Homo sapiens: one gene and its partners. The protein of the gene in region 3 purifies or fractionates together with the protein of the main gene of each other region. This does not show direct contact. Each region holds a gene or a part of one and is shown on either strand. Other genes may lie near its edges. The genes, in order: NUMB, IGF1R, UNC5CL and POM121.

Region 1 (7,031 bases), on a different chromosome or scaffold from region 3:
GCCTGGGCGACAGAGCAAGACTATCTCAAAAAAAGAAAGTAAAAAGAGAATCCTGGAAATGAGTAAGCCAAAAAGGAGTAGTCCCAAATTCTGTTCATAAATTCTGCCCAAATCTCTGACCCTTTTAGCCATGTAGATTCAAGGCAGACTCCAAATAGCCCAACTAAGGATATAAAAACTGATATTTGATTACCTACGTATGGTGACATGCACCTGTAGTCCTAGCTCCTCGGGAGGCTGAGGCGGGAGGATGCTTGAGCCCTGGAGTTGAGGTTACAGTGAGCAGTGATTGCGCCACTGCACTCCAGCCTGGATGACGGAGCAAGACAGTCTCAAAAAAAGAACAAAAACGCCCTGATGTCTGAGGTGCTGTTCAAAAGATAAGAGTTTTCCATTTGAGTATAATCAAATTAGCTACCTGATAAAACCAAAAATATGACACTTCCAAGGAATGTAACGGAATCCATTCTTTCCACATACAACATTCACAATGACTACAATGCAGTTACTCAGCATACAACAAAACAGACAAGTCTGACTTATTCTCATCAAAATAACAATCAATAAAGACCTAACTTCAAGATGACTCAGATGTTGGAATTAGCAGACAGATTTTAAATGCCCGCCTTCACTATTTGACCAAGAAATAAATGTCTCTTGTATTTGAGTCATTGTATTGTTTTGTGTTTATAGCATCACCACAACTAGTACAGAAAATGGTACACTGAAGTAGACTGCTACCTTAACAGAAATGAAAACAGTGTATAGAAGGCATTATAACTATACTCAGTGACAGAAAGGAAATATGTTCATGTTGAATGAAGAGATAGAAATCTTGGCAGAGAATAGAAACTATGAAAAAGAAACAAATGGCTGGGCACGGTGGCTCGTGCCTGTAATCCCAGCACTTTGGGAGGCCAAGGCAGGTGGATCATGAGGTCAGGAGATTGAGACCGTCCTGGCTAACACAGTGAAACCTGTCTCTACTAAAAATACAAAAAAATTAGCCGGGCGTGGTGGCACACGCCTGTAGTCCCAGCTGCTTGGGAGGCTGAGGCAGGAGAATTGCTTGAACCCGGGAGGCAGAGGTTGCAGTGAGCCAAGATCGCGCCACTGCACTCCAGCCTGGGTGACAGAGTGAGACTGTCCAAAAAAAAAAAAAAAAAAAGAAAAAGAAACGAGTGGAAATTCCACACCTGAAAAATACAGTATCTGAAGTAACTTCACTGGATCGGGTATATATAATGTAAAAAAGCAAGGTGCAGAACTGTGTGTATGTGTGTGTAGTGTTCATTGTGTAACGAAGTTAGCATAAACATGACTATTATATGTATTTGCTTATATTTGGGAATAAACCCAAAGGATTTTTTTTTTATCCAAAGGATTAAAGATACTGATTTACATATATTGTTGAATGTGGAATCTACCATGAAAGAGATGTAAAACTAGAATCAACAAGCATATGCTTTAGAACATGTAGTTGAGAGAGGTATCTGGGCAAAGTGCCTCTTGGGATGTCTGCTGAGTCCAATTCTCAGTATTTAAACTGCTGGACACAGATCTAGGTATTCCATAGCCTAGTTGTATCAGATGTATGGATTGTGCATCATGAAATGAACATCCTGTGTTCTGAGAAGCTCAGATAACCTCATAAGTCTTCTCTTTCTTTGTGTGTCGTATTTTCTAGGACCTCATAGTTGACCAGACGATAGAGAAAGTTTCTTTCTGTGCCCCAGACAGGAACTTTGATAGAGCCTTTTCTTACATATGCCGTGATGGCACCACTCGTCGCTGGATCTGTCACTGCTTCATGGCTGTCAAGGACACAGTGAGTCCAGCAAATATGTATTTCATGATGAGTATTCTCAGTTAGCTGGGCTCTTTCTGGGTTTGCTCAGCCAAGCGGTTTCTACTACATTTTTAACAAGTACTTGGAAGTGCCTAAACTAGCCTACTTTCAGCTCCTTTTATTCAAATAGTTCACACTCTTGATGTAACCCCAGGAGTTGCAACTCACTGAACAAAATGATTGGCTGAAACCAAAGATCATTAAAGGAAGGTAAAAATGGTCTGGTGATAGTGGTTGCTAAACTTTATTTGAAACTTTTAATTATTGGAAGTATTTTCAGGGTTCTTAAATGTATTTGTTGGCTAACATATATGAGTATGGTATTAAAAATGTATTTGCATAGAGACTACTACAAATGAAAGAAGTTGGCTGGGCCTGATGGCTCACCCCTATAATCCCAGCACTTTGGCCAGGGCAGGAAGATCACTTGAGACCACAAGTTGGAAACTAACCTGGGTTACATGGCAAGACCTCATCTTTACAAAGTTAAAGAAAAAATTAGCCAGGCATGGTGGCACATGCATGTAGTCCTAGCTACATTCTACATGCCTTGGGAGGCTGAGGCGAGCAGAACACTTGAGCGTAGGTGTTGGAGGCTACAGTGAGTCATCGTGCCATTACACTCCAGCCTGGGTGACAGAGTGAGACCTTGTCTCCAAAAACAGAACAAAACAAAAAAACAAAACTGAGTTGGAGTATACTTTCAACTATTATAAAAACAGAAATACCGGCCAGGCACGGTGGTTCACACCTGTAATCCCAGCACTTTAGGAGGCCGAGGCAGGCGGATCACGAGGTCAGGAGTTCAAGACCAGCCTGGCCAATATGGTGAAACCCCGTCTCTACTAAAAATACAAAAAAATTAGCTGGGCGTGGTGGTGCATGCCTGTAGTCCCAGCTACTCGGGAGGCTGAGGCAGAAGAATCGCTTGAACCCAGGAGGTAGAGGTTGCAGTGAGCTGAGATTTGTGCCACTGACTCCATCCTGGGTGACAGAGCAAGACTCTGGCCAAAAAAAAAAGAAAAAAGAAATACTGGCCGGGCATGGTGGCTCACACCTGTAATCCCAGCACTTTGGGAGGCCGAGGTAGGCAGATCACCTGAGGTCAAGAGTTCAAGACCAGTCTGGCCAACATGGTGAAACCCTGTCTCTACTAAAAATGCAAAAGTTAGCCAGGTGTGGTGGCGCATGCCTGTGATCCCAGCTACTTGGGAGACTGACTCAGGAGAATCGCTTGAACTCGGAGGCAGAGGTTGCAGTGAGCCAAGATTGCACCACTGCACTCCAGCCTGGACGACAGTAAGACTCCGTCTCAAAAATAAAACAAAAATAGGCCAGGCACGGTGGCTCACGCCTGTAATCCTAGCACTTTGGGAGGTTGAGGTGGGCAGATCACTTGAGGTCAGGAGTTGGAGACCAGCCTGGCCAACATGATGAAACCCTGTCTCTACTAAAAATACAAAAATTAGCCGGCTGTGGTGGCGGGTGCTTGTAATCCCAGTTATTCAGGAGGCTGAGGCACGAGAATCGCTTGAACCCAGGAGGCAGAGGTTGCAGTGAGTCAAGATTGCACCACTGCACTGCAGCCTAGGTGACAAAGCAAGACTCCATCTCAAAAAAAAAAAACAAAAAACAAAAACTAAACAGAAATACTAAGTTACGGTAGAATGAACAACGCTAGAAATTGTTGCATGATAGAAGTTTTGTTTTAAAATAGAGAATAATTTCATTCTTTATGTAAATTACCCAGCATTTTAACATGAAAGACAAGTCTCTTTTAAATGACAATGATTTTACTATAAGTTGAGCATTTCAAATCCGAAAATCTGAAATGCTCCAAAATTCTAAACTTTTTGAGCACCGACATGACACTCAACAGAAATACTCATTGGAGCATTTTGGATTTTGGCTTTTCGGATTTGGGATGTCAGCTTGTTAAGTATAATGCAAATATTCCAAAATCTGAAAAAAATCTAAAATCAGAAACACTTCTGGTCCCAAGCATTTCAGAAAAGAGATACTCAAACTGTATGTACAGCAAGTGTCGAGACAGAATAGGCAGTATAGCCATTCGTGAAGGTTACAGGTCAGTAAAGCTCTTGCCAACGTTTAATCTGGAAGATAAGTAGTGGCCATGGTCTAAAAATTGACCAAAATTGTTTAAAGATCTTTGAGACATTGGTGTAAACAAATGCTAAGAGCTCAGGCTCTGAGTCAGATATGGGTTTCAGTTCTGATTCTGGTTCTTACTAGCTGTGGGATTTGGGGCAAGTTACTTAACATTCTCTGTCTTGGTATACACTTCTATAAATGGAGAAAGTGGTTGTGAATACTAAATTGGATAAAGATTATAAGCACACTTAGCATAGGTTCTGGGCCACATTACTCCAAAAATTTTAGCGAATATTGTGTAAGCTGTCCTTCATTGGTTTGACACAGGTGCTTTGAAATGAGTTGAAGTAACAAAACTGTGCTTTTGTCTTCTGTTTCTCAGACCCTAAGTAAACCACAAACTGGGTATATTTTGCTATCACTACACTTTAAAAATCTGGAGTTCAAGAGTTTCCAGATAATAACTTAAAAACCATTTTGTTGTCAAATAGTGGCCCGGCAGCCTGTTTGAATCTCCTAGGCCAATAGTTCTACTGTATCAAAATCACCTGGAGGACTTGTTTTAAAACATAGATTGCTGGGCCCCATCTCCAGCGTTTTTCATTCAGTGAGTTTGGGGTTGGTACTTAAGAATTTGCACTTAAATGTTCCCAGATGATGCTGTTGGTTGGGGATGAGGTCACTCTTCAACAACTTCTGCCCTAGGCCTAGGAGAAAGAATAAGCAAGCTTCCTTGACCTGTAGCTCTGTCCTTATAATAGACCTGCGTTCAAATGCAAACACATTCTAAGAATCTTTCAGTACTCCTGTTTCATGCTTTAACATCTGGCCTAATGTCATCCTACTGGGAAGTTAGATGGAAACTCATGTGGATTCATAGAGTAATTCTATCAGTCTTTAAATAAGTAGTCAAAAGTTTTTTTAAAAAGTTTAAAAATTTTTAAAAAGTAGTCAAAGGTAGTAAAATCTTAGGGACATAAAGCATTTTAAACCTTACCTGTCCTTATGATAACTAATACTGTCATGCAAAATCCAGTGAGACGACTTGTTCAGAGCCGTGTGTAGGAGCAGCTGCCTACGTGATGTGATTTTGAGAACACCACAAAAGACTTCCTGTTCCCAAATATCTCTTCTCACTGTGAATGATGCCAACAATTATTGTACCATCTCTAGCTTTTTTATTCCACAATTAGCAAAATGGTCTAAAATACAGATAACCCTGCTAAAAATCATCCATTGAATTTATTAAATTGACTCTGGGTAATCCAGTGTATCTATATAAAGCAGTGTTTTGTTTATATACGTCCTCCACTCCTCCCATACACAAACCAGTTTTATCTGCTTAATTCTTTTATAAGTAGACAGTGTGGATGAAAACATGCTTTCACTTTTGCCTGTGTTTGGTTGGGAGGTAGAGTTGGGAATTAGAGCTAGAGGAAGATAGGAAGGGTATGGGGGAAAACCTAAAAGCACGGAGGGCCATAAATGAGGAGGGTTGCTTAGAGGGGGGATTCAGAAAGGGGAGACAGCAAAGCTTTTGTCTCATTGTTAGTTTTGTTTGTTTGTTTGTTTTTTGAGACAGGGTCTCATTATGTCACCCAGGCTGGAGTGCAGTGGCACAATTAGAGCTTACTGTAGGCTTAAGTGATCCTCCCACCTCCCAAGTAGGACCACAGACACACACCACCACCACACTCGACTAATTTTTTCTTTTTCTTTTTTTTTAATTATTATTTTTTTTGAGACGGAGTTTTGCTCTTGTTGCCCAGGCTGGAGTGCAATGGCACGATCGTGGCTTACTGCAACCTCCACCTCCTGGGTTCAAGTGATTCTCCTGCCTCAGCCTCCCGAGTAGCTGGGATTACAGGCATGCGCCATCATGCCTGGCTAATTTTGTATTTTTAGTAGAGACAGGGTTTCTCCATGTTGGTCAGGCTGGTCTTGAACTCCTGACCTCAGGTGATCCGCCCACCTCAGCCTCCCAAAGTGCTGGGATTATAGGCATGAGCCACTGTGCCCGGCCTTTATTTTGATTTTTATTTATTTTTTGAGACGGAGTTTTGCTCTTGTTGCCCAGGCTGGAGTGCAATGGCGCCATCTCAGCTCACAGCAACCTCTACTTCCCGACTTCAAGCAATTCTCCTGTCTCAGCCTCTCAAGTAGCTGGGATTACAGGCACCCGCCACCACATCCGGCTAATTTTTGTATTTTTAGTAGAGACGGGGTTTCGCCACGTTGGGCAGGCTGGTCTCGAGCTCCTGACCTCATGATCCACCCATCTCAGCCTCCCAAAGTGCTGGGATTACAGGTGTGAGCCATCGCACCTGGCCTAATTTTTTTTATTATTTTGGTAGAGACAGAGTCTCACTGTGTTATCCAGGCTGGTCTCAAACTCCTGGGCTCAAGCAATTTGCCCATCTCAGCCTCCCAAAGTGCTGGGATTACAGATGTGAGCCACCATGCCCAGCCTCATTCCTTTTTAATCACTGGAATTATATTTGTTTATCAGAAGTTTTAAGTTTGCACCTTTTTTTCCTAGACATATTAACAGTGCATTAAGCTCCTGAAATTTGCCTTGCCTTTCCAGTAGTTTCTTAGAAGTGGCTGGTAAATATTCCCACTGCTTCCCCAAAGGGCAACTAGAAGCTTGCATGTCAAGGCTTGAAACCTTGCATAGAGTCTTCTAAGCTGTTGGCCAGGGCTGACATGACAGAGCCTAAGTGATAAAGAGTTCTCCATGGCTGCTTACAAAAGCACAGGTTGCTGGTTATCACTTTACCCCAAGGCTTGTAACAGTGAATTGAACCATCATAAGCACTACCTTAGAAAATTTATTCATTTAAATTAATATGGCATACTAATCTATTAAAACAATTTTAAGCTGGAATTTGCAACATCTTGCTTTCATAAAAACAGACATTTGGGCCGAGTGTGGTGGCTCATGCCTGTAATCCCAGCACTTTGGGAGGCTGAATTGGGTAGACCACTTGAGGCCAGGAGTTGGAGACCAGCCTGCCCAACATAGCAAAACCCCATCTCTACTAAAAATACAAAAATTAGCCAGGTGTGG
Region 2 (5,523 bases), on a different chromosome or scaffold from region 3:
AGCAGCAGCTAGAAAGTAACTAGGACTTTGGAGCTCCTCCAGTGACCCACATTCTGCGTGAGGCCCACTGGGTTCTCACCAGCATCCCCCCGAGGTGGGCATGTCAGCTGTGAAAGACCAAAAAGCACATGGGAAATGTGAAGAACTGAAGTCCTCTGCCTTGGGGTCATGCAGATCAGACTTGCCTTGGCCTGACTGTTGTTAGTGGAAGGTATAGGAAAAAAGTCTACAAATCAGTCGGAACTGCAGTACAGAGTTTCGTAATTTATGTATTCAAATTTCTTTCCAGATGATTTAATGGAGGGAGAAACAGATAGCTTCCCTGTCGTCTTTACTGGCAATCTGCATGCTGAGAAAGCTCAGCTGTCAGAGAAGAGGCAATGCTTTTCTGGAGAACGCTTCCAGGCAACATGCGTGAACACACGTGCCCCACATAGCTCAGCTTCCCTGCCACCAAAGTGTAGTGATGCTTCCAGGAGGGACAAAACCAAACCAGAGACAGAAATGCATACAGAATTATTTTATTTAACTTAAACCATGTAGTACTTTACTAGAAAAAAGCAGAGTAAGAGAAACTAACGTTGCCTTAGCTTCAGCCATTCAAAATAGACAGTTTCTTTTTTCCATTATGTAAAGAATCCAGAGTATATCGCAATAACAGGAATAAATTCTTACAACAGAATATACAAAAACATTTTGAAATTTTTTTCATCTACTGATTTTTTATATAAACAGGATTTTTTAGGAATAATTTATACACAGAAAGTCATTTTATGTAACAAATTGGCCATGTTATTACCTTTTTTTTTCTTACTTAAAAAAATTTTTTTTTAACAAGAAAACTCAGAAAATGCATTATTTGCGGTGCATCCATTCCATCCCGCCTTCTGGTTTGATTTTTTTTATCCCAGACAAAGGGATACCCAGAGGTAGACAAACTCTGGCAAACCTCTCACCTCAACCTCACTGGCTTAGAAAGCAGACAGGTGTTTTCACCGGGCGTCTCTTCCACCGGTGGATGTGTGTGTGCAACGCCAAACATCCAAATGAAAAGTTGAAAACAAAACCCAAATAGTTTCCAGATCTTTCTCCTATGTAGCGCAAAAACCCCAGGTGTTTCCCATGATAGAGATATTGTGGAGTTGGGGAGACATGGCCAACAATCCACTGGAGTTAGAGGAAGTGGAGTCAACTTTAAAACCAATTTTTGTGTATGTTATAGTTTTTATTAAAAATTCTTTTCTGTATTGGAAATACGTATCTTCGGGGTTCTGCCTTAAATAAAATAGGGTCTCTTCTGTGTTCTAACAAAGCAGTAATCAGTCATGATACGAGGCATGTAAGCAAATGGCCTGTGTGCCCCATAGCTGTCATCGTTTATGTGATCACTGTGTATGCTGTAATCATCATGAAAACCATTGGCTGTGCAGTCAAGTCTTCCCATGTCCATGGCACTGTGCTGACAATGACGGCAGCCAGACCAATCAAGCCAGATGCCGAACGGTGCCATGCACTGCTGGGCTCCAACACCTCGGCTGTTTCCATGGCCAATGAGGTTCTTTCCATCTGTTAAAGTAGCTACACTCCAAAGGGAAATGACCAGTAAAAAATGATCCCCTTCCCAACCAGAGGGTTCTGGAAGACCAAGATACTGAAGATACAGAACTACTTTTTAAATCATCATCATTCCTTTGTTATAAACTAGGGCAAAAAGCATGGGGGGAAAAGAGGGTGAACCACGGATGGGGTCAGGGAGAAATCCTTTTTTGGCATATTGTAAAGCTAGCTAGTAAACAGGTGTCCTAAAAAAAAAAAAAAAAAATGGATCACAAACACACATTTGCACACACAGAGAAAAAAAAAGTGTCTTTAAATTATTTTCGGCAATTATAAACTACAAACATTTTATAAAATTATTCTGTTCTTACAAAAATGCAATGAAACATTTAATTAGTTCTTGTAAACCAGATCTTCGTCAACTGACTACCCGTAATCTACTGGACTTAAGAGCCCTATTGAAAACGCTAATGAGTGACTAGTTAAAACAATGTTGACCAGAAAGATGCGGACACACACACGTGGGACATAAAAATGAGTGATCGTTATGTTCTCGCAGAAACAAAACGCTAAAGTCATGCCCCAGAACTGACAACTGACGAGTGCGATGTAGTTTGTGTTCTTGAACAATTCGCCTTAACTCCGAGATCAGTTTCCAGAGTAGGATGTTAGGTTTCTTTGTTGAAACCAAATGCCCACGGATGACTGCTGAGCCTCGATGTGGTCTGATAGCTTCAAGAACAATCAAGTTCAAAACCTTGCCCACATTCCTTCCAAGCCCTGCACCCTGCTGCTCGTAACTCTTCTCTGTGCCAGGATCCCTGTGACAATGGTTCTGTACCCACCACCCGGTCATTCCACCATCAAGGAGCACTCACTTCTCCAAATGACGCAACCAGTCATCTAAGATGAAGGCCAAAAATGAAACCCTCTGACCTGTCCAAGGTCTGTATCTTCAGCATCTCTGGCAACAGAGGTTCAGTCTAAATAACATCCTCTCTTGAAGTTCTCATTTGTACCACCAGCTACTTCAGAGTGAAGAAAGAAAGTGTCTTTCGCCACTGGTTCTTAAGGAGTGGATCTCTGGTCCACATCTCCCAATGCTGCTTAGCCCAGGAAATGAAGACAGCTGACAACACAGAGGAACATTAACGAAAAGAACAAACCCCAAACTTGAAATGCATAACTGGGACTGCTGGAATGGGCCAAGGCATACCACGGCGGGTCACTGTCACCAGGAGGGCGCCTGTGTTTTAGAAGGGAGTGGCCAACACCGTCTGGCCACCCTGGAAGGAGCCAACGTGACAGCTAAGAACACTAGACAAGCATCCTAGCCTTCTCACCCATCGATCTCAGTGTGATCTTGCCACAGAGCCACTGGCAAGCCATTCGGCTGCCAGCCTGCAGAGGTGGACTGCTGTGGGAAAAGCTTCAGTGGAACAAACTGGCCTAGAATCTGGTGCCAGAGAATAGTTGGCTCATAAATCTTTTATCCCAAAGCACCCCAATGTGCACCGAGCATCTCGCCATTTGGTAGTTCCACAGTGACTGCTCTTCTATTTTACGAAGCCACTTTTCGTACCATTGAAATGTGACTCCGCATCTTAAGAAACAGGCCAGGAGAGGCCAGGTCGGCCACGAACACGGTCTTCCATCTTCCAAGGAGGAGGCTCGTTCCAAAGGTATGTCAAACGTCATGACATCCCACGAAGGAGACCTGGGGTGGTCTGGGTCTTGATCAAGTTCAACAGTGTCTCCAGTACACACCAGCTCCTGCTGCCTCAGGGAAGGGCTGTGTGGGAGAACGTCTTAATGCTCACATCAATTCCATGATGTGCCTCAGTGGTTCATATGACTTCAAGCAGTGTGAGCTGCTGGCAGAAGGAGGTTGCATGGAAAATGCCACAACTCAGCTTAAGATTATTTGGAACACACAGAGAAAAATCAAGAGGCAGAGAAATCAGCATGAAGTTAGGCTAGAACTGTGGATAGATGATGCCTTGGTATAGTCAAGGTGGGTGGGTTGGTCCAGTAAAGTGACTGCACCATCACACAAGCCAAGTTTTCTCTTTTATTGAGGTGTTTCTGAAGCATTTGCTATGATGGGCACTACACTGTTAGTGTTTTCTACTTAAAAGCTACCTACATAAAACAAAAACAAAATGACATCAGTAACTCGGACAGTTTAAACAAAACCCTTATAACCAGCTGAATGATCTGTAGAAATCCAGTTGTGGAAACCGGTAGGTATGTGCACGAGAGGAGAGGCCGTTATTCCAAGGGGTCACCTACAGTGTGGAAGAACAAAACCCTGATCCAACAGTATTTCTCAATGACCTTAAGATCCCCGGGGTCCTGGGAGAGATGGGTCGCGTTCCAGCAGGAGGCTCCTGAGCGCCTTCACTTAGGCTGGAATTGCCGAGGAGCCATCCACGCTTAGGCAAAGCTGCCCGCCACACTTCCCAGCGAAATCATCAGTGCCTGTAAGAGCAGCTGCTGGAAGAGGGGAGCGAGCCGTCTGTCCTGTGAGCAGCAGGACCAGGGAGACGGAGGTACAGCCCTGGCGGGGGGGGCGTGACGCCACGAGCCTCGGCGCCGGCCACTGGGCTTTCCAGCCGGAAGGTTTGGTACATCTCTGTCTACCCCTAGGGAAGGAGGTGAGGGAGAAGTTGAGAGGGCAGCCTGGAGGGGGAGGGGACTCTGCTCCTGCGTGTGTTCTATCAGGGACTGGCTGTGAGGTCAGGAGCCTCTGCATTCTGGCGCACAGGCTGGGTGACTCTTGCTCTCCAGCTGCTGCTGCAGCTGCACCTTTGTGCTCAATGAATGCAGCAGCCATGGCCGCACGGTCCTGCCTCAGCGCGAGCCTCCTGCAGGGATGGAGCAGCAGCAAGGGGAGCAAACCCAATGCCCCACGCCTTTACCCTGGGGATTCGCACAGAGATGGTGCTGCCTGGACACCTTCCTCTCCTCAGAACCTGAGGAACCACTGCTCTCTTAAGGACGAAATGTGTTGGTCATTCCATCTGCACAGAAGCAGTTTGTTCCAAAGACAACCAGCCAGGGACAGCCTGGTGGCTCCCCCAGGTGTGCTCTGGTGCCCTCGTTGGCCTCACAGGGCCACCTGGCTAGGAGGAGGAGAAATCTAACACCTTGGTGGAAACCAAGATAGAAAACAAAACAAAAAAAGCAACACAAAACAGGACATCTCAGAAAAAGGCAAGCTGTCTGAAATGAGCAGAGAGGTGAGTTAGTGTTGCTTTGACCCCGGAATACAGCCTGGCTTCCCCCTGCATCACCTGGGTGTGGCGCCTGTGGCGTGGATGAGGTTACCAGTATCAACGGCCTATTGTCAGGTGCTGAGAAAGGTGAGATGTATTCTTTTGTCTATATACACATATAAAAAATAAGAGTGAGGTAGATAAATGTTTGGGGGAAAAAAAACCCAAAAAATCAAGAACTGTCCCATCACTCTCACACACACACACCCCACACATACACACACACACACCCTTTCCTTGAAATTTAAATTCATAATGGGGCTTTTCTACAGTGATTGAAACTGGTAATTTATCACAAAATAAATTAAAAGAAAACTCCTACATATAATACCTTTTTTTTTTTTTTAAAGGGAACACGCTATGGGATAGAGACTAGAGAAAGCAGTGGGACAAACTGCTGACCAGCAAAAAAGCCGTATAAACTTTCTTTTCTGTGTTGAATCTTCAGTCACAACTAGCAATCACCGTATCCCAGCTTTGTTCTTACTCCTAAACATTTCTATCCCAGAAGCAACTCTTGTGCTGTCATCTCTCTGGTGAGAAGTGCTAAAAATGAAACAAGACAAGACCCCTGGGCCCCAAGGACCTGGATTCCTGGCCGAGGGAAAGTGGGCCAGCACCACAGCCCTGGTCCCCCAGCAAGAAGCAAAGGGGCTCTTGGGCCACCGTGGCGTCTGTGCTGCCTCCA
Region 3 (7,031 bases):
CTCTCTCTTTCTCGCCTTGCACACACTACACCCACAGCCACCTCTGCTACTCCCCAAAACAAAATGGCTGATCTCTTCCCCATCACTTCCTCCCTGAAGCCCTTTCTAGTTCACCCCTCCCAGGTGGAAGAGAACATTCTGCATCCCTCAGTTCAGACTTCTGGTCATAACGCCCGCAGTTCATTATTATTCTTGCTTCAGCTGTTTTCTGTCTCTCTTCAATGTGTTATACAATACTGGATTCTTACAGGAAGGCACAAGGAACACTTGCCTTTATTTTTCAAGCTCTCTGAACCCTTTACTAGTGTGTGCGCTCCTAGGCGCCGGGACCATGCCTCATTCATCTTGTATCATAGTGCTTAGCACAGTTTCCAGGGCATAATAGGTACTTGATAAATGTTTAAATGAATGATTTAAAAATCCACCCTGTAGTTTGCAGACCAGCCTGGCCAACCTGGTGAAACCCCGTCTGTACTAAAAATAAAAAATTAGCTGGACATGGTGGCGTGTGCCTGTAATCCCAGCTACTCGGGAGGCTGAGGCAGGAGAATTACTTGAACCCGGGAGATGGAGGTTGCAGTGAGCCAAGATTGCGCCATTGCACTCCAGCCTGGGCGACAGAGCAAGACTCCGTCTCAAATAATGATAATAATAATAAATAAAAATCCACCCTGTTTTCAGGGTCCAGCTCTAGCCCCATCACCAGGATAAAGTCTTCCCTGACCGCTGCACTCATAGTGTAGTTTCTGGAGCTTAGCTCAGTATTCTCCTGCTTTCTGAGTTCCTTGACAGGGATCATGACTGCACTGTCACCATTATTGATAACATTTATTGAATTAACAAGTGTCAGGCACCCAGCTACATGCTTTACACACATTATCCTATAATCTGTCTTGCTCCTCCTCAGGGCATAGCATGGCAAGCACTCAACATGTACCAAATAACTTCCATGTTAATGGATTCACTGTTAAATGTTAATTGAGCACCTACTATGCACCAGGCATCATTCTAGGTACTGATGATACAGTGATTAATAGAGCTGCCCTTTTATGGGAAATAGGGTGGACAGTAGCCATTCTCTGACTTTTAAGTCACTCCCTTGCCTGTGATCCAGTCTCCAGAGTGTCCTGAGGAACCCCATTCCAGCCCACCCTCCTCTACCATCCACAGACCTCACCCCTCTTCCTACCGGATCTTCATGCCGCAAAGCCCCAGGTGGGAGGCCAGTCTGCGCCAGTCATTGCCGGTGATGCTGTTTGGCTCCAATAACATCCGCAGCTGCTCAAAGAGCTCTGGGGGCAGCCTTAGGCAGGGAAAAGGGTGTTCTTGGAAGAAAGGGACAAACAGACCCACTCTGGTTCTCCCATATGCACCCTAAATGCTGTAGTCACCCTGTGGGTGCCAGGGTAGGAACCCAACATCCCCCAGGCAGCAGCCCAAGCAACCCCCGTCTCACCTATTGCATGGGGGCGGCTGGGAAACAGGTGGTGGCGCTGCCCAGGATTCCTCCTCTGATGCCTGGAATCTGAGGATTTCCATATACTTGGTCTCCAAGCCCTGAGTCAACACAGGGCAGGGAACACACTTAGGGGTCACAAGCCATCCCCCTGAGTAAGAAGCTGGAGTCCTACCTCCATTCCTCATGTCTCTCCTTCAGTCTGTCACTCAGAGCCACCTTACCAGGAGATACAACCCTGCTCCACCCAGCACCCTCTACCCACTGTCTCCCTGTGACTTCAGAACCGCACCTTCAGCCTTATGTTTGCCCCTGAGCTCTTTGGGAACTGGGACATGAAGACCAGAGTGCAGCCTGAGCCACCAGGGGAAGTCCTGGGTGGGGCCGTGGAGCAGTGGGAGGTCATCCAACCATAGAGACACTGATCTCAGCCATATGTGTACCTTCCTCCATTCCAACCTTCCCTTCCTCTTCTCCAAGTGACAACAGGGTATCTGCCTGCCCTCCACTAAGGTGCCACTATGGTTCCCCAAAGACTCTCAACTCCGATTTCTTCGCATCTTCCCTTGGTGCAGCAGGAGAGGAGAGATACCTAACTCCCAGCCTGCCTACTCAAGACCCTCTTCCTGGTCACTTCCCACACTGAAAATACAAAACATCATCTCTCAAATCCCACACTGAAGATACCAAACATCATCTCTCAAATGTAGACAATCAGCCTAGAAAGAAACCATATCAACTTGATGCCCCAGTTCTCTGAGTTGGGAGAAGGGGTTAAACTAGGGTTTGGTTCTTTTAGCTTCCTGCTGGATTCATCCACCGATAGACAAGGAGAGTCAGGGATGAGGGTAACTTGGAGCCCAGATGATCTCAGCCCCTCAAAGAGCTGGTATGGGGGCTCTATGGAAAGTGCCATCTTTACCTATGTGATTAAGACCATAGTTACTGGGCACCAGACCCTGTGCCCACTTTGCCTAGGATTTCCCCCAGGCCCTGCCCTTCCTCTGCCCCTCAGCTCCAACTCACATCCTGGAAGGTGTGCATGGTGACAATGATCTCATTGGTTAGTGCTGAACAGTCCTCATTCTCATCGGCTATAAAGAGAAGGTGACAGCGTGGCCAGTGAGTGAGGAAACGGCCTGGGGTAAGAGCAGGAGAAGGTAAGGGACTCTATAGTAAGACTTGGGAAATCTGAGGAAGCTGGGGTCCAACACTCCATTTTTCTCTCTGCAAAGATCTGTGTGGCTCCTGGCCTTTCAGGGAAGGTCTGTGTGCATGGCTGCATGGGGGTCTGCAGAGCTCCAGGGTTACTGGGAGGGAAGGAGAGGAGACAGGATGGGAAAAGAGAGGGGAGGAGGTACACACAGGGCTCCCGGACTACCTGCTTTTCTCCGGAAGCAGAAGGAGCGGAAGGGGCACTTTCCATGCCAGATGTGGAGATGGGGAACCAGCTGGCAACTGCTGTCATCCACATTCTCCCAACCTGGTGAGTAGGCAGACAGCAGAGGGCCTCAGAGAGTGGGGCCTTAAACAAGTATTGAAGGGGGCTGTGGGGAGGCATGAGGACAGAACAAAGGCAGGAGGGTCTCAAGGGAATGGGAATCCCCAGAGCCTGGGCTGGGACCCCAAGAGGGCCCTTGCACTATAAAAGCCTTCCATCCTTTCCTGCTTCTGTGGGGTATAACCCCTCTCCTTCCCACCTGCCACCTGGCATCACCCTGTCCAAGGAGTGAGTGGCAAGGGCTCAGTAGACAGCAGAGTGGTCAAAGCCCTGGGGGCTCCATGAGGCTACTGCTGGCCCAGAGGTCACAAACAGACTTGGGGCCTGGTGTGGTGGCTCACACCTATAATCCCAACACTTTCAGAGGCCGAGACGGGTAGATTACTTGAGGTCAGGGGTTCGAGACCAGCCTGGACAACATGATGAAACCCCGTCTCTACCAAAAATACAAAAAAATTAGCCAGGCATGGTGGTGGGCACCTGTAATTGCAGCTACTCAGGAGACTGAGGCAGGAGAATAACTTGAACCCAGGAGGCGGAGGTTGCTGTGAGCCAAGATCAAGCCACTGCACTCCGGCCTGGGCAACAGAGCGAAACTCCATCTCGGGAAAAAAAAAGAGAGAGAGACTTGGGATCCCCAGATCTCCAGATGTCCAGGGGAGGCCCAGAACCCTTCATTCCTGTGGGGCTCCCGATCATCCTATCCCACAGGCCACTGCCTCCCTCACCCTCTGAGATGTACGTGAGCTTCAGGCACTGGTCGCCCCTAGCCCCATTGAAGTCGAAGAGCTGGCAGGGCCCACGCAGGCGCCCACCATGGGGCTGCTCGTTGGTCAGTGCCCACTGCAGGGCGCAGGGCGTGTTGTTGAGGAAGTAGATACGCAGTTGCAGATGGGACTGTCCTGGCACCAGCGGTGAGCAGAATACGGCCAGCTGCAGCCATTTGCGGGCTTCGCGCCCCACAGGTGCCTCCAGCACACAGGTGTAGAGGCTGCAGAGGGAGCCAGTGGCAGGCACTAATGTGCAGGGAAGGCTAAGACACCAACACACTGCCACCAGCCTCCTGCCACCTGAGGGGCCTCTGTGGGGCCTTCAAGGAGGTTCAGAGAACACTCGAGGGGAGCACTTAGGGAGGAACTGGTAGGTTGGGGATGAAAAGTGAGCATGTCACAGTGACTGGTGACTGAATGGGGAGGAGAGCTGGCAGGGGAGAGAGGGAAAGTGGGCTCAGGGTGACCATGCTTGGGAGGGCACCCGCACATGGCCCTATTCCTGTCAATGGGTGGCAAGGAGGCTGGGAGGCAGAGGACCTAGGACTCTAGAAAGACAAAGAGAAGAAGGACAGAGATGGAATGGAGTCTTAGAGAACTGGTGCTAAGCCTGGGGACAGTCCTGAAAGGGGCACAGTGTAGAGAGAGATAATTTGAAAGACAGAGAGAGATGGGAAAGACAGGTCCCTCTTAGATGGAGAGATGGTGCTGAGTCAGACACTTCCAGACAGACAGAGAGACAGCAATGGGATTTGCAGTCATGGACATGATTGATGTGAGAAAAACTGCTACAAACATTAGGACAGAGGGGCCAGAAAGAGACACCAGGGGATAAAGGATTTGCAGACCATCTTCTATACAGAGAGATGAAGATAAGGCAGACAGAGAAAGTGGGCAGGAAAGACAGTCCTCAGAGAGATGGGTGTGGGAAGACAGGCCAATGGCATGTGCCTACCTGAAGTGGGAGAGGTGGATGCGACACTCATCCCGGGAGGCGTGGGCCCCCGGCCGCCCCAGGGGCCTCCATACCTTGGCATCCAGCAGGGTAGTGTTGCTGCTGTAGGTGCGAGCATGGCTGGGCTGCTCGGCACAGTGTTTGAACGTGAGAGTGCAAGGCTTCAGGAAGGAGGCCCCATGGGGGCCACATGCCACCACAGGGCTTACCAGCCCCTGGGCTTGGGACAGCGATGGGGCGTCCGACAGGTCCCACACCAGGATCAAAGACACCCGCTCCTGGCGGCCCACAGCCACAGCACCTGGCAGGGAGAGGGAGAGCTGAGATGGGCCTGGTAGGCAGGCACACCCCTGCCCCTGAAAGAGGCCAGGCCAGAGAGAAAGGAGGTGGGGCAGGAGCCCAGGAGAGACCCCCAGCAGGGCACACAGGGAAGTGGTATGAACAAGAGTAAGACGACTGTGGAGCTGACTTGTAGTGTAACCCTAAGCAAGACACTTCCCTTTCCACCCAGGCTGCTGCTAGCCCATAGTGTGCCTTGTGTGAATTTGCAAATGGTGCTCTTCCCTCCCTTTACTAGAGAATTGTCACAGCATACTGATTCATTAGAACAAGGCACTTTACTTCCACCTGCCAGGAAGTTGTCCCAAAAGATATGTAATATGTCCATCCCTGAAGTCAATAAAGCTATACTCAAAATATAAACAATTATCAGAAGTAAAAGGTGTCTATGAACATTGCTCCCTCAGATGTGGTGACCTAATGTACAGTCTGACCAACTGTATGCGGAGATGAGAGCCAGGAGCTGTTACCTGGTGGGATGAGCAAGGAGATGCCTGTATCCTGGAGCATCAGGCAACCGCCGCGGTGATCCACCTCTCGAGCCGAAAACACCAACAGTTTGTGCATCAACTGGCGGACCATGGTCTGGCCTTGAGTGGGTGTGTGTAGCTCCTGGTAGAAGGCAACCATCTCTGGCAGTGTGGCTGGCAGGTGCTGCCTTGAGACCTCATTTTCTAGTTGGGGGGTAGGCTGGGACACTGGTTCCTCTTGACCATTCAGTGTCCAGCAGGCCCCCAGCAGCCTTCTAGGGCAGTGCCATCGAAGGCATTGGGCCAGAAGGAGGACACTTGCCACTGGGACCCCCACCAGCAGTAGGAACTGGGAGGGTTGGAATGAACTCTCCTGGGGGCACATTCGCCTGGTTACTCAATGCCGCTGGCTCTCCTTCACCCCTGTGCCAGCCAAAGCCAAAGGCCTGGTGGGGAAGAAGGGGTCAGTGTCAGGGTAAGCCCTTTTAAGTTGTGGAGGTCAAGGCTTGGCTTACACATAGCTGCAAGTTGTCTTCATTCCAGCGCACACTGCACACTTTAGTCACACCAATTCTTTTAACCTGTCTCTCTTACTCGAGAACCTACCCTGGCTCCCCGTGACCTAATACATCAAGGTAAACTGTTCTGAAGCAGAGTGAGCTTGGGTTTACAGTTAGAGAACATGAGTTCAAATGTCACCTTGGTCACTGTGGCTGGGTAAACTTATCATATTGATGTAAGGCAGGAGAGCCCCAAAATTGGGGCTTAGTTTGGGAGGGTTTGTGGCTTCACCTAGGCAAGAATTCAAGGGTGAGCCAGTGGTGTCAGACAGCAACTTTCACTAAAGTGGCAGAGTATAGCAGCAGCAGAGGTATGCTCCTTACAGAGCAGAGCTAACCCTAGGCAGTGTGCCCAGGGTAGCAGCTCTGGGGCATTTCTGCCATCATATTTATGTCCACTTTTAATTACATGCAGTAAGGGGTGGGTTATTCAGAAATTTCTAGAAAAAGGAGTGGTAGCTTCGGGTCACTGCCATGGAAAGGGGCAGTAACTTCCAGGCATCGCCATGGCAGTGGTAAACTGTCATGGCACTGGTGGGCATGTCTTATGGAGAGGTGCTTTTGGTGCCTTTTCCCTGTTTCAGCCAGTTTTCTATCTGGCCTGGAATCAAATCCCACCTCCTGCCTCAATACTGCTTAATGTACCTCAGTTTCCTCATCTGTCCAAATATCTACCTTGATCTACAAGTGCTGATACAAAAAAATCTATAAGTGGAAAAAGCAAGTCGCAGAGAGATAAAATATTCTGAGCTCATTAATGTGAAAAACAAAACTGCATATAAATAGATACATATTTATGGGTGCATATATGGAAATGTAAAGGTATAGAGAAAGGTCTGGAGCAGTGGTGTACAATAAAAATGTAATGTGAACTACACATGTAATTTTAAATTTCCTGATGGCCACATTAAAAAGAACAGGAGAAATTAATACATTTTATTTAACCCAATATATTCAAAATGTTATTTCAACAGGTAATC
Region 4 (7,031 bases), on a different chromosome or scaffold from region 3:
TCCAAAGTAATCAGTAGATGAAAGGCAATCCCAATCAGTATCTCAGAACTTTTTTTTTTTTTTGTGGAAATTGACAAGTTGATCTAAAAATTATATGAAAATGCAAAAGGCCAAGATACAAGACAGTCCTGAAGAGAAATGAGAAAGTGGGATGACTGACTCTATCAAGACTTAAAGTATAAGGCTAGGGGTAAAACAAAGACTGGCACAAGGGTAGGTAGAAAAATAGACCAATGGAACAAAACAGAGTCTAGAAATGGACCCACATATATACAGACACTTAAATTAGACAAAGACGGTGCTGCAGAGAAATAAGGATGGTCCTTTCAATAAATGTTGCTAAGAGAAATGGGTATTTCTACAGTAAAAAACAACAACAACAACAACAAAAACCACCAACACCACCAAACACAAAAAAAACTAATTTTGATTCCAACCTCACACCATATACAAAAATTAATTTCAGGTGGTTTATGGATTTACATATAAAAGTAATAATAAAATAATAAAGCTTCTAGAAGGTAGCACAGAAGAAAATTATCATGACCTTAGGTTAGGTAGGCAAAGATTTCCTGAATACTACACAAAGTATGCTAACCACAAGGAAGTAGAATGGCAAGAGCAGGACACTTTTTTGTTGCAACACATACATGACAGACAGCTTGTATCTAGAACATATAAAGAGCGTATTCAAATCTCTAAGAAAAAGACAACAACTTGGGGCCAGGTGTGGTGGCTCACGCCTGTAATCCCAGCACTTCGGGAGGCCAAGGCGGACGGATCACCTGAGGTCACGAGTTCGAGACCATCCTAGCCAACATGGTGAAAACCCATCTCTACTAAAAATACAAAAATTAGCCGGGCATGGTGGTGGGTGCCTGTAATCCCAGCTACTTGGGAGGCTGAGACTGGGGAATTGCTTGAACCCAGGAGGTGGAGGTTGCAGTGAGCCAAGGTCACAGCACTGCACTCCAGCCCGGGCGACAGTGCGAGACTCTGTCTCAAAAGAAAGAAAAAAAAAAAGACTGTACAGTAAAAAGTAAATTTCCTTTTTATCTCAGTAATGATTGCCAGTTTTTAATATATCCTGTAAGAATTATTTTATGCATATTAAAAGATTTTTAAAAGCCCGAATAATAGAGGATACTATACAGTTCTGAGCCTTGTTTTTATGTAATTGCTTTTTGAGATCATTCTCATGAGTACTTCTTCAGTTGCCTTATTCTTTTTCATAGTTACATAGTATATTCCAACTTACACCAATACTGTAAGTTATTCAGTCAGCTCCCTGAAAAGATAACATGTACATTGTTTCCAAGCTGCTATTATTAAAACAATGTTACATTAAATCCTTGTATCCATTTCCCAGTATGTGTGTAGGATAACTTCCTAAAGGTAAAGCTGCTTGATCAAAGGGTGCATGTATCTCTTATGTGGACAATTCCTGTCACAAAGCCCTCTAGAGAGCTGTACCAACTGACACTCCCACCAGCAACGCGTGAGGAGCCTGTTTCTTCTAACACTGCACTTCTATGGTTTCTATTTTACGTTCAAAACTTTGCTTCATTTGGAATAGGTTTCTCTACTATAGGAAAAACTCTTGAACATGAGATTTGGCTGGTAGCCCTTCAGAAAAATGGGTAAAGGATATGAACTAAGACTCATGGAAACAGAACTGAAAATAATCATTCAACATATGAACAGATGATCAAACTACTCATAAGAGACAAAAATTAGATACCTTTTTTTCTTTGAGACAGAATCTCACTCTGTCGTCCAGGCTGGAGGGCAGTGGCGTGAGCTCGGCTCACTTGACCTCTGCCTTTCAGGGTCAAGCAGTTCTCCTGCCTCAGCCTCCCAAGTAACTGGGATTACAGGCACACACGACCACGCCTGGCTAAATTTTTTGTATTTTTAGTAGCAACCGGTTTTTGCCACGTTGGCCAGGCTGGTCTCAAACTCCGGATTTCAGGTGATCCACCTGCCTCAGCCTCCCAAAGTGCTGGGATTACAGGTGTAAGCCACCAAGCTCGGCTGGCTTTTTTTTTTTTTTTGAGACAGAGTCTCACTCTGTCGCCCAGGCTGGAGTGGAGTGGCGCTATCTCTGCTCACTGCAACCCCTGCCTCCCAGGTTCCTGATATTCTCCTTCCTCAGCCTCCTGAGTAGCTGGGATTACAGGCATGTGCCACCATGCCCAGCTAATTTTTATGTTTTTAGTAGAGACAGGATTTCACCATGTTGGCTAGGATGATCTCGAACTCCTGACCTCCAGTGATCTGCCTTCCTCGGCCTCTCAAAGTGCTGGGATTACAGGCATGAGCTGCCACGCCTGTCTTAGATACTATTTTTAACCTGTGAAATTGGTAAAAGCCCAGAGCTACAATAACCAAATCTGCTGGTGAGGCCATGGAGAAATGGTCCCTCTCATACAACGCTGAGGGGAATGCTGAGTGGTGCATGCTCTGTAGGGGGATTTAACAATATCCAGCAAAATTACATGCGCATTTAACCTTTGACCTGGGAATCTGACTTCTAGGAACTTTCCAGAGGCAAAATTGCCAAGGATGAAATGACATATGAACAAATGTATTCTTTGCAGCATTATTTGTGATAGCAGAAGACTGAAACAACCCAACATTTGTCAACAGAGGACTAAAGTACCTATGCAGTTTTAAGACCAAAGATGAGTTTCTGTGTACTGCTATGGAATGACCTCAACTATCTATTATGTGAAAAAGCAAGGTTCAAATCTGTATATACTGTCTACTACCTTAAATGTTAGAAGGTGGCGGTTTTCAGATACACTGATATGCATACCGTTTAAAAAACAATAAAGGATAATCAAAAAATAAAAATGGAGAGGAAGGAAAAATGTAGAGTGGAAAGGGATGGAAACTGAATTTTTGAGTGTATCTTGTTTTAGTGTATTTTTTTTGAAACAACTTATTGTTTCAAAGATTTTACATAATTTAAAACAGAACTATTTCAAAAAGGAAAACACAGAAATCCCTGTAACTTTCAAACATACTGAACAAACGAACCTCACTGTATATAAAGTTGGTGTACCCAAAGGACAATTAACATTACTTTAAAACACGATATATTGATTACATGTCCGTAGCATTCACACAGGGATATAAAGACAAATGAATCACAATTCTTAAACTGACTTCAGCCGTCTTAATAATGACAGTGTTAACAATGACACTGATACCGCTATTTTGAAATTGCATGGGCCAGGCGTGGTGGCTCATGCCTGTAATCCCAGCACTTTGGGAGGCCAAGGTGGGTGGATCACCTGAGGTCACGAGTTCGATGCCAGCCTGGCCAACATGGTGAAATCTCGTCTCTACTAAAAATACAAAAATTAGCTGGGCATGGTGGCGGGCACCTATAGTCTCAACTACTTGGGAGGCTGAGGCAGGAGAATCGCTTGAACTCAGGAAGCGGAGATTGCAGTGAGTCAAGGTCGCACCACTGTGCTCCAGCCTGGGCGACAAGAGTAAGACTCCGGCAAAAAAAAAAAAAAAGAAATTGCGTGTTACTAGGATCAAAGTAATTATAAACCGACATTTTTGGTGTAATACATAAAAATATAAAATCAAATAAATTACATAAAAAATCCTACTATCATAAATTTGAATTTGGAATATTATGAATTATTTATATTCCCCTTTCTAGAGGATCTGTCTATCTTATCTCTCCTAAAACTTAGACTGTAGTCTCTACAGTTCTAACTGGAAGAAACCAAAGCTTTCTGAAGAAACACCCAACTTCGGTATAGGCTAAAAATGGACTTTGGGAAGGTGGGCAAAAAGCAATGAAGCTATCTGTCGAAGACTGCTGGGATCAAAATAAAGGATACAGGAGCCAGTTTGGAACCCATAGTCCAAAGCTGGAAAAGTTTGCATATCAAAAATAATAACTAGATATTAAATAATATTAATTATCCCTCTTAAATTATTAAGAGGGATAATGATATTACGGTCATTAATGTTCATTTATATGACTGTCAGAGCCTTCTGGGCTGATGAACTCGTCTCAAAATCTTCCTCCTCTCAAAAACATTTCTCCATACATGCTTTACATCTTTTTGTCTGGCTGCTGTATACTGGGTACCCACTTACTGACAGCCACTGTAATAGGTGCTTTTTAAATATTACCCTCAATCACTGCAACAGCACTTCAGAGATAAGAAAAAGAGATGTTATGTGATTGTCTGCCCAAGACCTTATAGCTACTAGATGTCAGAGCCAAGCATTTTTTTCCTTTTCTTTGAGACACAGTCTTGCTCTGTTGCACAGGCTAGTCTTGAACTCCTGGACTCAAGAGGTTCTCCCACCTTGACCTCCCAAAGTGATGGGATTACAGGCATGAGCCATCCCGCCCAGCCTCAGAGCCAAGATTTGAATCTAAGTCTGTCCAGCAGCAAAGCCTGCCCTGTTCCCTATACTATGCGATAATCCCTTTTCCAAAAAATCATGACCACTTGTTTAAAAACCCCGCTTTCAATTCTAAACGCCTATAAGATAAATCTCTTTTACGACCCAATACAAGCTGGACTCAGTCTACCTTTCGAATCACCCTCTGTCCGTTTATCTACAACACAGCTCTGTCTCGAATCAGCTCGCACACATGCACTGCTGTACATTCTGGGCTTTCTACTCCATTCCGCTGGCCTATATTGATCACTCAATGATCTGTATTTTCTATTAGCTTAAAGACAATTCTAATGTCTGACAGATAGAAGGTGATCAGTAAACCTTTGCTAATCAATTACTTTATTTAAAAAATTTTCTTTAAAAATTCTTTTGTACAGACAAGGTTTCACTATATTGCCCAGGCTGGTTTTGAACTCCTGGGCTCAAGCAATCCTCCCGCTTTGGCCTTCCAAAGTGCTGGGATTACATGGCTAAGCTACCATGTCTGGCCCTAGTCAATGAATGAACGCTGGGAATTCATGTCCCCCACATTAAAAGAGCTGTACTTGTACCTGTGAGATGCCTCGAGTGGAGCTGTAGGAACTGGTAATGGCATTGCGGCTGGAGCTAGGGATGCCACTTGCGTAAGCGCCTGTCAAGGAGCTCATGGAAGAGCTTCGGGATCTCTTATTCAAGTGGTCATCTGAGCTCTGAGAATTGAGGCCTCTCTTCAGAGACCCAGGCCTAATAAAAGAGAAGACAGTTAGATGCTTTATTGAAGGCAAAATTCTTTTACGATTTCATCCACGGTCATGACATCTTTCTTAATAACATGAAGGGAAGAGAATAATGCTTTTAATTTTTACTGCTAACAATCTGGCCAAATCTATCTGACAAAGTCAGTAAGAAAAGCCAAATATTTAAAACTTAAATGTATGATTTCCATTTATAGAATATTCTGGAAAATGCATACCTATCTACAGTGACAGAAGACAGATCAGTGGATGCCTGGGAACAGGGGTGGAAGTAAAGAGAGGGATTACAGGCATGTGGGAACTTTTGGAGGTGAAGGATGTTCATTATCTTAGTGGTGGGATGGTTCCACAGGTGTATGTGTGTCAAAATGTCACATGCTTTAAACAAGTACGGTCTATTTTATGTCAATTATATCTCAACAAAGCTATTAAAAAAAAATCAGAGTTAAGAGGAACCCATCATTTTACTAAACCTCCAATGGAAACAGAAATCTCCTACGCATCTTTTCTGTAGGACAGTCATCCAACCTGTTACAATATAGACAACTCTCTCCTAGAGTGACCCACGTCAACCATGAACCAGTTTATTCTTACAGTGGATTACAGTGTATTTCCTCTTTCACCCACGGATCCTATTTGAAGTCAAACAGAGCAAGTTATTTTGCTTCTTTCAAGGGACAGTCCTTTGGTTTTTTGGAGACCATTGTCCTTCCCTCACTTATTTCTTTATTCCCCCTGAGACTTTTCTCCTCTGGGCTAATACTTCCATACCTCCAAAACCCCAACATCCACCACCACCCCTTTGGGCTGTTGCAAATCTCCTTAACATCTTCATTGCTTCACTGGGAATGAATTTCCGTTTGTGTACATCCTCCCTCGCAGTGCAGTACACTGATCTGACCACAGTGCTCCACGGACAGTGAGCAGAACTACGGAAGGCAGGAATACCATCCACCTGCCTCATTCTAGTCTTTCTTCTAACAGCACAGACCAGGAGCACTTTAGCTTTCCTGGCGGCCACATCACACTGCTGACTCAGATGAGGTACCTAAGGTATCCTAAGTCTTTCCACACATACTTTTGAGCCACTTTCCTTTCCACCCAATTCTTCCTCCAATTTGTTTTTAAACTGACATGTAGAAATTTAACATTTAGGTTTCATACTGTTTTATCCACTGCACAAACTTTGCAATCCTTCTGTGTATGTGCTTGGTTATTAAATATATTTATAAAACCTCTTAAGTCTCAGCATATTTCATCCATATTAATGCAAGAACATTAAAAGGAATTAGACAGAAGGCAGTTAACTGTGGCAAGTTACTCAAAACGTTCCTAATTTCAAAGACGTGAACCTGAACCAATTAAGCAATGCAAAAAACAAAGAGGAAAATCTATAGGGCAACAGCTCTGATCAGGCCTTTTTCCAAACAGTTGGTATTTCATCCGGATGGACTCCCACTTACTTAGGCACAAAAGAAGCGGGGACTCCATTGGCCACCAGGGGCTCAAATGCTGAATGTCCACTGCCACTGCTATCATGGCGCCTGCGACAAATCAAAAAAGTCTCAATGAAATGACATGACTTTTTTTGTCCCTTTAAAGTGTATTCTCATATTTCTGGGACCTTATACTATCTCTATGGAGCACAGATTCCATGATAGACCAGAAAATGGTTGTTTAAAATCCCTAAGCTTCTGAAAGGTAAATTTTTTTTTTTTCAGACAGAGTTTCGCTCTTGTTGCCCAGGCTGGAGTGCAATAGCACGATCTTGGCTCACTGCAACAAACCTCTGCCTCCTGGGTTCAAGCGATTCTCCTGCCTCAGCCTCCAGAGTAGCTGGGACTACAGGTATGC

The links.
Region 1: the proteins of UNC5CL (region 3) and NUMB purify together in Homo sapiens (affinity purification with mass spectrometry; 2 studies listed by BioGRID and IntAct, with this or other methods). This does not show direct contact.
Region 2: the proteins of UNC5CL (region 3) and IGF1R purify together in Homo sapiens (affinity purification with mass spectrometry; 2 studies listed by BioGRID and IntAct, with this or other methods). This does not show direct contact.
Region 4: the proteins of UNC5CL (region 3) and POM121 purify together in Homo sapiens (affinity purification with mass spectrometry; 2 studies listed by BioGRID and IntAct, with this or other methods). This does not show direct contact.

Annotation. Positions count from the first base shown.
Region 1 is NC_000014.9:73,287,531-73,294,561, reverse strand, and holds part of NUMB (protein numb homolog), read left to right. Parts: intron 1-1,687; coding exon 1,688-1,828; intron 1,829-7,031. UniProt on the Homo sapiens protein: Regulates clathrin-mediated receptor endocytosis. Plays a role in the process of neurogenesis.
Region 2 is NC_000015.10:98,959,513-98,965,035, reverse strand, and holds the end of IGF1R (insulin-like growth factor 1 receptor isoform 1 precursor), read right to left. Parts: 3' UTR 506-5,523; downstream 1-505. UniProt on the Homo sapiens protein: Receptor tyrosine kinase which mediates actions of insulin-like growth factor 1 (IGF1). Binds IGF1 with high affinity and IGF2 and insulin (INS) with a lower affinity. The activated IGF1R is involved in cell growth and survival control.
Region 3 is NC_000006.12:41,029,199-41,036,229, forward strand, and holds part of UNC5CL (UNC5C-like protein), read right to left. Parts: intron 5,938-7,031; 5' UTR 5,877-5,937; coding exon 5,492-5,876; intron 4,984-5,491; coding exon 4,683-4,983; intron 3,949-4,682; coding exon 3,686-3,948; intron 2,940-3,685; coding exon 2,838-2,939; intron 2,551-2,837; coding exon 2,483-2,550; intron 1,558-2,482; coding exon 1,457-1,557; intron 1,304-1,456; coding exon 1,190-1,303; intron 1-1,189.
Region 4 is NC_000007.14:72,928,075-72,935,105, reverse strand, and holds part of POM121 (nuclear envelope pore membrane protein POM 121), read right to left. Parts: intron 6,722-7,031; coding exon 6,641-6,721; intron 5,167-6,640; coding exon 4,995-5,166; intron 1-4,994. UniProt on the Homo sapiens protein: Essential component of the nuclear pore complex (NPC). The repeat-containing domain may be involved in anchoring components of the pore complex to the pore membrane. When overexpressed in cells induces the formation of cytoplasmic annulate lamellae (AL).